Homo sapiens: one gene and its partners. The protein of the gene in region 4 interacts with the protein of the main gene of each other region in a pairwise test. Each region holds a gene or a part of one and is shown on either strand. Other genes may lie near its edges.

Evidence for each region.
Region 1: the proteins of LATS2 (region 4) and TEAD2 come close enough for resonance energy transfer, tested with the Homo sapiens proteins (one large-scale study listed by BioGRID).
Region 2: the proteins of LATS2 (region 4) and GLIS1 come close enough for resonance energy transfer, tested with the Homo sapiens proteins (one large-scale study listed by BioGRID).
Region 3: the proteins of LATS2 (region 4) and KDELR2 come close enough for resonance energy transfer, tested with the Homo sapiens proteins (one large-scale study listed by BioGRID).

Annotation. Positions count from the first base shown.
Region 1 is NC_000019.10:49,348,917-49,352,416, forward strand, and holds part of TEAD2 (transcriptional enhancer factor TEF-4), read right to left. Parts: intron 2,450-3,500; coding exon 2,385-2,449; intron 144-2,384; coding exon of another isoform or gene 41-143; intron 1-40. UniProt on the Homo sapiens protein: Transcription factor which plays a key role in the Hippo signaling pathway, a pathway involved in organ size control and tumor suppression by restricting proliferation and promoting apoptosis.
Region 2 is NC_000001.11:53,505,739-53,508,951, forward strand, and holds the end of GLIS1 (zinc finger protein GLIS1), read right to left. Parts: intron 1,039-3,213; coding exon 881-1,038; 3' UTR 501-880; downstream 1-500. UniProt on the Homo sapiens protein: Acts both as a repressor and an activator of transcription. Binds to the consensus sequence 5'-GACCACCCAC-3'. By controlling the expression of genes involved in cell differentiation inhibits the lineage commitment of multipotent cells.
Region 3 is NC_000007.14:6,470,653-6,474,152, forward strand, and holds part of KDELR2 (ER lumen protein-retaining receptor 2), read right to left. Parts: intron 1-3,500. UniProt on the Homo sapiens protein: Membrane receptor that binds the K-D-E-L sequence motif in the C-terminal part of endoplasmic reticulum resident proteins and maintains their localization in that compartment by participating to their vesicle-mediated recycling back from the Golgi.
Region 4 is NC_000013.11:21,051,587-21,055,086, forward strand, and holds part of LATS2 (serine/threonine-protein kinase LATS2), read right to left. Parts: intron 1-3,500. UniProt on the Homo sapiens protein: Negative regulator of YAP1 in the Hippo signaling pathway that plays a pivotal role in organ size control and tumor suppression by restricting proliferation and promoting apoptosis.

The DNA.
Region 1 (3,500 bases), on a different chromosome or scaffold from region 4:
GCCTGCCTCCACTTAGAAGCTGAAAAAGCTAAATACTCACTTTCCCAGCCTCCCTTGCAGTTAGAAGTGGCCATGTGACACAGTCCTAGCCAATGAGACGTTAGGGGAAATCTGCTGGGGGGCTTCTGGGAAGGAGTTTCTTCCTGAATGAAAAAGACAGAACTTTGGGAGGAGAAAGCTTTTGGCCCTGGCCAAGTCCTGCTTGGGAGATTGATATGGTTTGGATATTTGTCCCCTCCAAATCTCATGTTGAAATGTGATCCCCAGCTGGGCACGGTGGCTCACACCTGTAATCCCAGCACTTTGGGAGGCCAACGCAGGTGGATCACAAGGTCAGGAGATTGAGACCGTCCTGGCTAACATGGTGAAACCCTGTCTCTACTAAAAATACAAAATATTAGCTGGGCATGGTGGCACGTGCCTGTAATCCCAGCTACTTAGGAGGCTGAGGCAGGAGAATGGCTTGAACCCAGGAGGCGGGGGTTGCAGTGAGCCGAGATTGCGCCACTGCACTCCAGACTGGGGGACAGAGCGAGACTCTGTCTCAAAAAAAAAAAAAAAAGTGTGATCCCCAAGGTTGGAGGTGGGGCCTGATGGGAAGTGCTTGGGTCATGGGGGTGGATCCCTCATGAATGTCTTGGTGCCTTCCCCATAGTAACAAGTGAATTCTCACTCTTTGAGTTGATGTGAGCTGGCTGTTTAAAGGAGCCTGGCTTCGCTCTCTTGCTCCCTCTCACCATGTGACATAGTGGCTCCCCTTCCCCTTCCACCATGGTCCTAAGCTTCCTGAGGCCCTCACCAGAAGCATAGGCTGGCAACATGCTTCCTGTACAGCCTGCAGAACTGTGAACCAAATAAACCTCTTTTCTTTATAAATCACCCAGTTTCAGGCATTCCTTTACAGCAATGCAAATGGACCAACACAGACATGATCCCTGGAGTTGCAACAGCCATCTTGGGACAATAAGACAGACATGAGAGGAACTACAGAGATTCCAGTCCTGATATTGCTAAGCCCACACGGGAACAGCCCACCTCCAGGCTTTTTGTTGCATGGATTCATAACATGAATGCTTTTACTATTTAAGGCACTTTTAATGTGGGTCTTCTGTTACTTGCAGCCAAAAGTATTCCTAATTGATAAATCTATGGAAACTAAGGGACTCCCTCTTTCACTGATGTGAGTTCTCAGGGCCATATCAGCATGGACTTCCAGAAGCCATCTTTGCTGCCAAGTAGCTGAGTCTGCCTGGGAATGAAGCCACCACAGTGGAAAGCAGATCAAAGTAATGACTGATGCCATCACTTGAGCCGCTGGATCCAGCCACGCCTGAGGCCATAATTCTGAACTGTCAGTTACTGGAACCAATAAATCAATACATTTTTCTTATTATTTTTTATTTTATTTATTTATTTATTTTGAGACAGAGTCTTGCTCTGTCGCCCAGTCTGGAGTGCAACGGTGCCACCTCGGCTCACTGCAACCTCTGCCTCCCAGGTTCAAGTGATTCTCCTGCCTCAGCCTCCCGAGTAGCTGGGATTACAGGCAAGTGCTACTGCTACCACGCCTGGCTAATTTTTGTATTTTTTAGTAGAGGTTGGGGGGGGTGGTTTCGCCATGTTGGCCAGGTTGGTCTCGAACTCCTGACCTCAGGTGATCCACCCGCCTAGGCCTCCCAAAGTGCTGGGATTACAGCTGTGAGCCACCGCACCTGCCTCTTCTTTTTTAAAATGTTGCTTCAGCTGGCTTGATTTGGATTTCTATCACTTGCAGCTGAAAGAATCTTGACTAACATACCTCCCCCATGTCTCATAAGCTAGCAAGTGGCAGAACACAAACCCAGTGTGTGGCTGCAAAGACCAAAATCTCCTAACCATCACCAGTTCCACCACTCAGCTCTCCAGCCCCTCCCGGCTCCCCCGCCCCCAACACACACACCCTGCCTCAAAGCTGGGCTTCAGTAAGAATGTATCCCCTAATTGGCCGGGTGCGGTGGCTCACACCTGTAATCCCAGCACTTTGGAAAGCCGAGGCAGGCGGATCACAATATCAAAAGATCGAGACCATCCTGGTCAACATGGTGAAACCCGATCTCTACTAAAAATACAAAAATTAGCCCGGCATGGTGGCGGGCACCTGTAATCCCAGCCACTCGGGAGGCTGAGGCAGGAGAATCACTTGAACCCAGGAGGCGGAGGTTGCAGTGAGCCGAGATCACGCCACTGCACTCCAGCCTGGCGACAGAGGGAGACTCCATCTCAAAACAAAACAAAATAAAACAAAAAAAACAATGTATCCCTCAATTGATGGAAGGTTGAAGGAAAGGCAGTAGGGGTCGAAGAGAGAGAGGGGAGACAAGGGAGGGTGGAGCGCAGGCTCTTACCTGGGAGGTCAGTAGATGGGGGAGTCAGTGACAAGGTGAACGGTGTCTGTGAGAATGGCTTCACACTGAGGGAAAAAGGAAGCCAGGGGTTAGCCAGGTAGAAAGATGCTAATGTCACCAGCAAATGTTTACTGAGAGGCCACAACAAGCAAGACCCTGTGCATTTTGTGCACAATCTCACTGAAGCCTCACAGTGCGTGAGGTAGGTAGAATGACTGCTCTTTTCATTGCACAAATGAGGACAACTGAGGTATAGAGGGGTCAACTGACCTGCCCAAAGTCACACAGTTGAGATGCAGCAGAGCTGGGACTTGAACCCAGGTCAGTCTCAGCCCGGTATCTCAGGCTCTTGATGATGACATTTTGGTATCTCTCACAAAATGTCAGAAAGAGAAGAGAAACCAGCCTGGCGTGGTGGCTCACACCTGTAATCCCAGCACTTCAGGAGGTTGAGGCGGGCAGATCACTTGAGGTCAGGAGTTCGAGACCAGCCTGGCCAACATGGTGAAATCCCATCTCTACTAAAAATACAAAAATTAGCAGAGTGTGGTGGTGCGCGCCTGTAATCCGAGCTATTCAGGGGGCTGGGCCAGGAGAACTGCTTGAACCCGGGAGGCAGATGTTGCAGTGAGCCGAGATTACGCCATTATACTCCTGGGTGACAGAGCAAGACTCCATTTCAAAAAAAAAATAAAAAGAAAGAGGAGAGAAGAGAAACCAAGTCTTGGAAGGCAGGGAGAAGACGCAGAAGACAAGGAATTTGGAGGAAGAAGAGGCTGAGGGGTTGGGAGGGTGGGAAGAAAATGACCAACACTCAGGAGATGGGACAGGAGGCCAAAGTCGGGGTGGGGAGGCAGCACTGGCCAATAGAACTTTCCAGGGATGGAAATGTTCTATTGGATGGAAATCTGTGCCATCCAATACGGTACCCAGTGCCCACATGTGGCTACTGACCACAGACCACGTGGCCACTGAGCACAAGTGTGGCTCATGGACCTGAGAAACAGAATCTTTAATTTTATTTAATTTTAATTTAAATAGCTGCATGAGGCTAGTGGCTACAGTATCAGTCACAGCCCTAGTAGCCCAAGAGATAGTGGTGAAGAGACTTAGATG
Region 2 (3,213 bases), on a different chromosome or scaffold from region 4:
GCAGGGACCAGCCTTTGCCCTGGCTTTTTGAGGCTGTTTGGGCTCCATCCCCAGCAAGCTTGCCCTGCCCTCCCAGTTTTCTCTGTTTGCAGAAGCCCAGACACTAGATTTGAAGCTCGTTCTCCCACCCGCTGAGGAGTCGCTGTAGCAGGTAGAGGCCCAGGTCAGACGGAGCTGGGTCCCAACTGTGGTCTGACTGTGGGGCCCGGGATCTGAAGCCCGTCGCCGCACCCTCCCAGCCTCAGTTTGCCCACCTGTCCATGGGGATGGGCCTACCTCACTGCACAGTCCTGGGACTAGCGCTGGTGTCTGTAAGGACCATAGCGCATGGTGGGGGCCACGTGCCACTGGTTCCCATCCTCGTGGTCAGAACCCAGGGCCTGAGCTGGTTTCTACGCAGCCTCCCTAGCCCTGAACACCTGGCTCTGTCACCCTCCTCCGAGGCTCTCCCGGTCCCAGCCTCTGGGCTGAATCATAAAGCAGAACGAGGACTTCACATCTCCTTTCCAGTTTTTAATGTTTTTTCTTGTAAAACCAAAAATATAAAACTGGCAGGGGAACGGAAAACAAGTTCTGCATATTTTATATACACGAGGTCTGTGATTTCAAAACCACTGCGGGGAGGAACGGGAAGACAAGATCGAGGGAATGTTACAGGGCCACAGATCCTGGCGGGCACCTCTGTGCGCCCAGCTCAAGCTCGGATGGCGGCTCCCTGGCAGCGCTGGGTGGGGTGGCAGCGCTGGCTCCCCTGGGTCATGGCCTGGCTGTTCCGGCTGTGGCCTGGCACTCCTGCTAGGTGCACGGAGGGTGGGAGCGACAGCAGGTGGGCGAGGTGGCATCTGCAGTGCTGGATGGGCAGGCGCATGTGGGGGCTCCTTCAGGTGTCTGTGTAGATGGAGGGGATGTGGCCCAGGCAGTGGTCAAAGGCTCCATTGGGGAAGAAGCCACAGTCCTCGGGGCCGCTGGACACCACATCTTCAGATGGCTGCTGTGGCAGCGCTGTGGGGCATGAGGCCTCAGCCAGGGCCTCATAGCCTGTGAGTGGTTGGGAAAGGGTCAGCGCTGGAGGCAGCAGGGGCTGTGCCTGCGCATGCTTCCCAGTTCCAGGCCCCACCCCGCCTGCCCAGGGTCATCCCCTCACAGTGTCCCGTCGGTGGGGCCTGCTTGGAGCCCCCAACTTTTCCAAATGGGGGAGCTGGCCGCTGGGGTGGGGCGAGGGCTTGGGAGGCACCCTGGGCCTGGCACACCCAGGGGGCCCAGGGCAGCTGGGGAGACAGGCACGGGGTTGACTCAGGGAGGTCCATCACCAGGGCTGGGCTGTGGGGCAGAATGTGGGGGAAAGAGAGGAGCAGGGTAGGAGCAGCTCAGCCCTTGCCCTCAGGGGCTGGTCCCCTCCTGGTAGAAGGACCAGCTCACCCCCACCCTTTCAGTTGTATCCCCCAACCAGACTCAAGAAACTCAAAGAAGGCCACCAGCATTTACTGGGCACTTAGTAAGTGCTCATTTCAGCTTGCCTCGCTTCGGCTCCACAATGCTCCCCTGCGGTGGGATTCACTATCCTATTGTACAGCTGAGAAGGCAGGCACAGAGGCCAGGATGCTTGCCTAAGGTCACAGTGTGAGTAAGGGGTGGAGCTGGGATTGAACCCAGGTCCATCTGGCTTCAGAGATACCTGGCTCTTCCACCGGACATGCTGTCTCCAGGGTGGGGCCACCGCTCAGAGGCCCTTGACTTGGGAGGGGCCGGGAGGGGTGATCTTCTCCAGCCCCTGCCCGAAAGGCCTGCCAATGAGCTGCTGTCATGCATTTGTGTGGCCTAAGACAGGCGAGCCTCAGTCTACGCAGTGGGGTTGGGCTGAACTGTTCTGAGGCCTGCAGCCCCTGAAGCTTGTCAGCCTGGATTTCATGCTCTGTGTGTGATTTTTGCTTGACCGGGGAGGTGTGCACAGAAAGGCAGCTGAGCGGGCCTGGAGTGGGCACTGGGGAGAGGGGAGGCTGAAAGAACCTCCCCTGGCCGGTGTAGGGCCGGGGTGGGGTGTGGAAGCTGCCTCCTGCTCCATTCAGAGCTATTCATTCTAAGCCTTGCTGCTCAGCTGAGAAATCCCATGTGGGCTGGATGGGGGTGGGGAGGACAAGATGGGGAGAGCCCACAGTGCTGGGCACCTCAATTCGGGTATACACAGACACAGAGCACCCGTCTTCCATGTGAGCCCCATGTCACGCAGGGGGCCATGCACACACGTCTATCCCGCGTGGACACGGCACACGTTTACCCACGGGCCTGTGGGCACAATCCTCAAACACAGGTGCACACGTGCACACAAGCACACGTCTGTGGAAACAGCCATGAGTCGTGGGGTGGGTGACACAATGTGCACACAGATGGGGTTCACGGACATCCACATACACCTGGGGTAATACATGTGCAGACACGAGAGTGCAGCCCTGCCAGCTCCTGACACTCACGGGGCGCATGCTGCCCAGAGCCACCTGTGCAAGCCCCGCAAGCACGGGCACACGCAGACACCTGGCACGGGCGCAGGTGTGTGGACGTGGACCCACAGGGTGGTATGTGCCCGGCTGAGGCCTCAGTGCTTGTCCCTATATACCTGTCCCTCCACCCTCCCGCTCACTACCTCAAAGCTGCCCCAAGGGCCTCTGGGGCGGGTCTCAGGTTCCCCTTTGTTGGAGCCCTGGAAACCTCCTGTTAGACCTGGGCCCCGAGGCTGTTTTGAGGGTGGGTCTCAGCTGGAGGAATTCAGGGAGGGTCTAGCCCCTCCCTTCTGATGCCCCTGCTCTGACTAGGCCTGCCCTGCTGATCGGAGCCTGGTTCCACCTGGGCTGCGGGCACCCTCCCCTCTCCCTGGGCTTCTCTAGCCAAGCCTGGGGCAGAGCTGGGGAGGCCCAGGGCCCTGCAGGGCAACACCAGGTACCTAAGTGGGGAAGGAACAGCATGACCTCCAGGTTCTGTCCCCGCCTAATCTCCTGTGCTGCCAAAGGGAGAGCAGGATTTGTTCATTCCCTGCTATATCCCCAGGGTCTGCAGCTATGCCTGGCACACAGTAGGTGCTCAATAAATAAAGTGAAGCAGTAATTAAACCATGAGCTCCCAGTCCGATTCTTCAGAAACCTGCCAGCATTCAGACACACATAAGGCTCGCAAAGCTGTGCAAGGAGCATGCACTTTCCAGTCAGGCAGGTACAGACAGTT
Region 3 (3,500 bases), on a different chromosome or scaffold from region 4:
TATTGTTTGTTTTTGAACTTTATGGTAGTAGGAGGTACTCCTTATAATTTTTGTTTGTAAACATATACTTCTTGATTTAATCCGCCACCACTATGACCACCATCATGCACGGATTCACCAAAAACTGGATAAATAATTATGTTGCTTTTATTAATCTTTCTTAAATGTATAGCTCATGTTGGCTGGGCATGGTGGCTCACGCCTGTAATCCTAGCACTCTGGGAGGCCGAGGCAGGCGGATCATGAGGTCAGGAGATCGAGACCATCCTGGCTAACATGGTGAAACCCTATCTCTACTAAAAAAAATACAAAAAATTAGCCGGGCGTGGTGGCGGGTGCCTATAGTTCCAGCTACTCAGGAGGCTGAGGCAGGAGAATGGTGTGAACCCAGGAGGCGGAGCTTGCAGTGTGCCGAGATCTCGCCACTGCACTCCAGCCTGGGTGACAGACTGACTCTGTCTCAAAAAAAATAAAAAATAAATAAATAAATAAATAAATAAATGTATAGCTCACATTTGTTTCGGTTTTTTTTTTTTTTTTTTTTTTTGAGATGGAGTCTCGCTCTGTCGCCCAGGCTGGAGTGCAGTGGCACAATCTCGGCTCACTGCAACCTCCGCCTCCCAGGTTCAAGCGATTCTCCTGCCTCAACCTCCCAAGTAGCTGGGATTACAAGCGCCTGCCACCATGCCCAGCTAATTTTTATATTTGTAGTAGAGACGGGGTTTCCATGTTGGTCAGGCTGGTCTCGAACTCTTGACCTCAGGTGATCTGCCTGCCTCGGCTTCCCAAAGTGCTGGGATTACAGGCGTGAGCCACAGCACCCGGCCTGTTTTGGGTCTTTATTTAAAAGTCTGGTGGTGTTTTGGGGACCGGAAATATGCTGTAGGAACTTAACTCTTACTCATGTCAATTAGCCTATGGTAAAACTGGCTTCAGTGTATGTTGTTTCACTTCAAGTTGCAGTGTGTGTTGTTTCACTTCAAGAACCTACCAATGACATTAAGTGAGGGCCTAGTGTTAATAATTTGTTCCTTTTTATAGCTGCGTCCATTGGTGGTCCATTGTATGGATGCACCAGTTTGTTTATTCACTCACCAGTTGAAGGACAGGTGGTTTCTAATTTGGGAGGACAGTGGATAAAGCTGCTGTGAACATTTGCGTACAAGTGTTTGTGTGAATGTAAGTTTTCACTTCTCTTGGGTATGTACTTAGGGGTGGGACTGCTGGGTCATATGTTAAGTGTAAGTTTAACTTTTTTTTTTTTTTTGAAACGGAGCCTTGCTCTGTCACCAGGCTGGAGTGCAGTGGAGCAATCTCGGCTCACTGCAACCTCCGCTTCCCGGGTTCAAGCAATTCTCCTGCCTCAGCCTCCCCAGTAGCTGAGATTACAGGCGCATGCCGCCACACCCAGCTAATTTTTAGTAGAGATGGGGTTTCACCATGTTGGCCAGGATGGTCTCGATCTCCTCACCATGTATGTGAATAAATACAAAACAAAATCTACATGCATAAACAAGACACACATCCATCTACACATGCACTGAGCCCCCTCAGCGCATCTAGCCAAGGCTCACAGCAGAGAGGCCTCTCACCAGGACCTAGACTGTGGCCAGCTCAACATTAATAAAAACTTGATGGGCGTTATTTCCACTAAGGCCTTAGCAGCACCTGGAGAAGAACAGCTGCTTCTCTCCTCTCACCAGCACACAGAAGTTAAAGTAAAAAGACACGAGCACCTCGGGTCTCACGCCAGACTTTCAGGACATCGTGCTTAGAAACTACAACCAAGCAAGCATGGATTCCTCTGAAACCTGGGCATCCTGAGGGGGAGAGAGGATTCTTGCTCACACACCTCTAATGCCTGCAGTTTTAACTTGCCTAGACAAGTGGGGACCTAACCATTTTTAAGTAAGCTCATTATTTCCTGAATACTAGGTTCCCATCATTTGGTAATGAAGAATCCATTATAAGTGACTCAAATTTGCTTTTTAGTAAAGACCAGACTCACATACTGCTTTGTCTCCTTTCAACAGTGCTTATGAAAATGCTCTTGAACACAAAATGTTGGGGGGAGGTTGTTTAGGTGCCATACCAATAGGATTCAGTTGAAATATTACTTCCTTGGGTATGCTAATAACCAAATGGCCTAGAATAGTGCCTGGTGCACAGGTGCTCAGTATTTGTAGAAAGAAGGAAAGAAAGAAAGAAATCAGACTCCTATTACATATCCTGAGAGCCCCTGTTCTTTTTTTTTTTTTTTTTTTTCAGACAGGATCCTGCTCTGTCACCCAGGCTGCCAGGCTGGAGGGCAGTGGTGCAATTACGGCTCACTGCAGCTTCAACCTCCAGGGCTCAAGCGATCCTACCACCTTACCCTCCTGAGTAGTTGGGACTACAGGAGTATGCCACCATGCCTGGCTAATTTTTGTATTTTTTTTTTTTTTTTTTTTTTAGAGACAGGGGTCTAACTATGTTGCTCAGGCTGGTCTCGGATTCCTTGGCTCAAGCAATCCACCCACCTTGGCCTCCCAAAGTGCTGGGATTACAGGCGGGAGCTACTGGGCCTGTTTCATGTTTTTTATATCCATAGGTTCGCAACTCTTATACTTTTCCTTTGTGGCACCCATCATAAATCGCAGTCATTTGTACTGCCATGATCTGTGTACTCTCCCACACCAGCCTAGAGACTTCTGCTTATTTTCTGCCGCATCCTCAGTTCCCAGCTCTGTAGGTGTTCACAAGCATGAATTCAACACTGTGCGAAAGAACTGAAGCTCACGTAGTCCACAACTTCCCCCAGTGTGGGGTGTGTGCCACCAGTGCTACACAAAGTGTTAGGTGGTGTGCAAACATTTTGTATTTTAATAGTTATACACTAGTTTTAATGTGAATTAGAAAAAATATAAGAAAGACAACAAAGGTGTTATAGATACTAATAATTAGGACAAGTTGAAAGGTTTAAAAAAATACGTTACTAAGTAAATGATGGTATAGAGATCATTTAAGCACGGCAAATGTAATAAAAATGACACACACACAACAGTTTAAGTAAAACTGACTCAGTGGCAAAGAAAAAAGATAGAAGCCTATAGACAGTTCCTCACACAGCAGCGAAATGAGACACTGCAACTAGGAGTCCTGCTTTCGTTCCTTGTTATGTACCAACTTGCTGGATTTCTCTGGGGACTCTGTAATTTCCCACGGCTTGAAAATATAATAGTTACCGCTCTTACTTACAGAGTTATCAAGAGCTTTAGATTTATCATACTTAAGGAACCTAAAATAAAAAAGTTCTAACTTCAAAGTATTTTAATTAACTACTGTTTTGAAACCAAAAATGTATGCTTACTGATAGCTCGTTTAGTCCCAGTTATATATACAAGGTGGTCTGAAAGTTTTAAAGTCAAGAACAGCATATTAAGACATTATTTTTGGAGCATTTTAATTAAAAATACACAGCTGACATAAATTAAGTGTCCATAGACCTGTGCACTGTAGAT
Region 4 (3,500 bases):
CTCACCTGTCTGGGCAATGCGGCCCACCAGGAGAGCAGTGTCAGTGGTGGAGGAGGAAGGCAGTGACCAAAGGTGAAAAAGCACAGGGCAGGCTGGGTCCAGTGGCTCACACATGTAATCCTGGCACTTTGGGAGGCCAAGGTGGGAGGACTGCTTGAGCCCAGGAGCTGGAGACCAACCTGGGCAACAGAGGCAGACGGCATTTCTAAAAGTAATTAAATAATTAACCAGGTGTGGAGGCACACCTATGGTCCCAGCTACTCCGGAGGCTGAGGTGGGAGAATCACTTAAACCCAGGAAGTAGAGGCTGCAGTGAGTCAAGGTCACACTACTGCACTCCAGCCTGGGAGTCAGAGCAAGACCCTGTTTAAAAAGCACAGGGAGGGGAAGCTCACTGAAAACTGGGTGTGCAGTGCTAAAGTGGCTGGAGGTGGGAGGCCTGGGTCCTTCCCCAGCTCTGGCACTGAGCGTGTGGTCTGAGCCTGTCACTTAACCTTGCTGAGTTTCAAGCTCCTGCACGGTACCAAGGGTCTAACACCCGCTACTGTCTACCTGACAGGCTTGCCTTGAGGATCACAGTGGTGCTGTGTGTGACAGCAGGCTCAATCTGTAATGCATGATATACTGATCAATTATCACCATTACTAATTAAAGATTTATAATAAGTTAGGCAAAAAAGGTTTAATGAGGCCAGGAGATAAGACCACGGAAAAATTACCAAACTGAACACAGAAACAGGTTGCTTGCTCCAAGTGACTCCTCTTTATTTTTTATTTATTTATTTGGGAGAGTCTCACTCTGTCACCTAGACTGGAGTGCAGTGGCTCAATCTCAGCTCACTGCAACCTCCACCTTGTAGATTCAAGTGATTCTCGTGCCTCAGCCACCCGAGTAACTGAGATTACAGGCGTGCACCACCACACTCGGTTAATTTTTGTATTTTTAGCAGAGATGGGGGTTTCACCCTGTTGCCTAGGCTGGTCTCGAACTCCTGATCTCAAGTGATCCACCTGCCTCAGCCTCCCAAAGAGCTGGGATAACAGGCGCGGGCTACCATGCCCAGCCGAGTGACTCCTCTTTAAATCAGTGTTTGAGAATGATGCTTAGAAAGTTAAAGTAGCTTTCTTTTAACTGTAAAGACAGAAAAACACAGAGAAGAAAAGCTTAAGTCTTTCCTCTCTGAAACGTGCCTGCAGCCAGGTGCCAGGTTGGTCAGTTCTGAGCAGCATCTGAGCCTCAAGATGCTGACTGCGGCTCAAACAGCAGGTCTGGGTTGACTCTGTGATCCTGTGTATGTCAAAGGCACCGATGCTTCCTGTCCTCCCCAACCTGCAAAACCTTTCTCTCAGCTAGAAAAACCGAACGCTGGGCCGGGCACGGTGGCTCACGCCTGTAATCCCAGCACTTTGGGAGGCTGAGGCAGGCAGATCACGAGGTCAGGAGATCGAGACCATCCTGGCCAACACGGTGAAACCCTGTGTCCACCAAATATACAAAAATTAGCTGGGTGTGGTGGCACGCACCTATAGTCCCAGCTACTAGGGAGGCTGAGGCAGGAGAATCGCTTGAACCCGGGAGGCGGAGGATGCAGTGAGCCGAGAACATGCCACTGCACTCCAGCTTGGCAACAGAGTGAGACTCTGTCTCAAAAAAAAAAAAAAAAAAAAAAAGCCCAACTCAACCCCACCTGCCTGGCTCACTCCTACTCCTAAAACCTCAGCCCAGAACCCCTCCCACAGAAGGACCTTCCTGACCTCCCCAATCTAAGGGACCATACATGTTCACTCCCAGCCCTTCCCACAGCACCACCACTGGCTGGTGTGCTTCCTCTTGAAGAATCTGATAGCACCACGAGGGCAGGAGCATCCTGTTTGGTTTACCCCCATCTACTCCCAGGCATGTGCACACAGGCCCACGCAACATCTGTTGAAAGACACAGGTAGTCACTCAGCACCGAATCTGCGTCCTCAGTTCCACACTGAGGACAAAGCCTGCCAGTGCCACCCCAAAGGTCTAAGGTGATAAAGGAGAACGAAGCCTCAGTCAACAGCAGCACCTTCTCTGAAGTTTAACATGCAGGTCTAAATGAAACGGGCCCAAGGGAGGTTCACACAGAACAAAAGTCGCAGAACTATGGCATATTATTCAGCTATAAAAAGGAAGGAAATCCTGTCATATGCAACAATAAAGATGTACCTCAAGAACATTATGCTAAGTGAAATAAGCCAAACACAAAAAGGAAATATTGTATGATTCCAGTTATGTGAGTTACCTCCAGCAGGCAAATTCATAGAGACAGAAAGAAGAGAGATTACCAGAAGAAAGGGGAACAGGGAATTTTTACTTAAGGGGTACAGTTTTTGTTTGGGATGATGAAAAAGTCTTATGTATAGACAGTGGTGATGTTTGCAGTAATGGTGCATTTAATGCCACTTAACTGAACTGTATACTTAAGAATGGTTAAAAGGATAAATATGTATATTTTTCCTCAATTTTTAAAAATGGGGAAAAAAGTCTCCTAACTACTCCTATTTAGCAAACTCGTGTTTGAACAATGGCTCCCTTTTTAAACATAGCTACACGGCTGGGTGCAGTGGCTCATGCCTGTAATCCTAGCACTTTGGGAGCTGGAGGCAGGAAGGCAGGAAGATCACTTGAGGTCAGGAGTTCAAGACCAGCCTGGCCAACATGGCAAAACCCTGTCTCTACTAAAAATGCAAAAATTAGCTGGAAATCGCTTGAACCTGGGAGGCGGGGGCTGCTGTGAGCCGAGGTCATTCCACTGCACTCCAGCCTAGGCAACAGAGCAAGTCTCCACCTCAAAAAGAAAAAAAATTTAAATAAATAAATAAACATAGCTACACAATGAGAAGACTGGACCTAGGGACTGGGTAGGATATAGCAGGGCAAAGTCTCCACGTGAAGTCCAAACCCTAGGGCAGCTGCACCTCCCCACCCCACTGGCCCTCCACCACACGGACACTGACTCACAGCAGAGCCACGCTCCTAGAGACACTTGGGGTGTTAAGCATCTGTGGGTGCCACAAACATTCAAATAGTAAAATCAACCAGGGCAGTCGAGACTGGACATTTCTATGTCGATGTCTGTTTATACCTGAGCAAAGAAATACTAAGTGGCCGTGTCCCTAGCCAGATCAGGAGTCCTGGTTTTTCTTTCTTTTTCCATTCCCCCCTCAACATTTGCTTATGAAAAATGTCAAACATACAAAAAGGTTGAGAGGATTATTCAGTGACATCCCTAAACCTACCACCTGGTTTTGTTTGGTACGGAGGGAGGGGGAGGACCCCACAAGCTGTTCTGATTTTTTCTCCATCTCCCACCATAGTGAGGCACTAGTCTAGGGATACCACAAGGGCTGTCCCTGTCTTAAGTGAATATGAAAAAATAGTACCTACGGATAAACTGTGTTCTTGCCTGAGTACTTTAGAAAGGATGAAACGTTCCTTCAGTTTCATAGAGAATGAAAGCATTTTTTCAG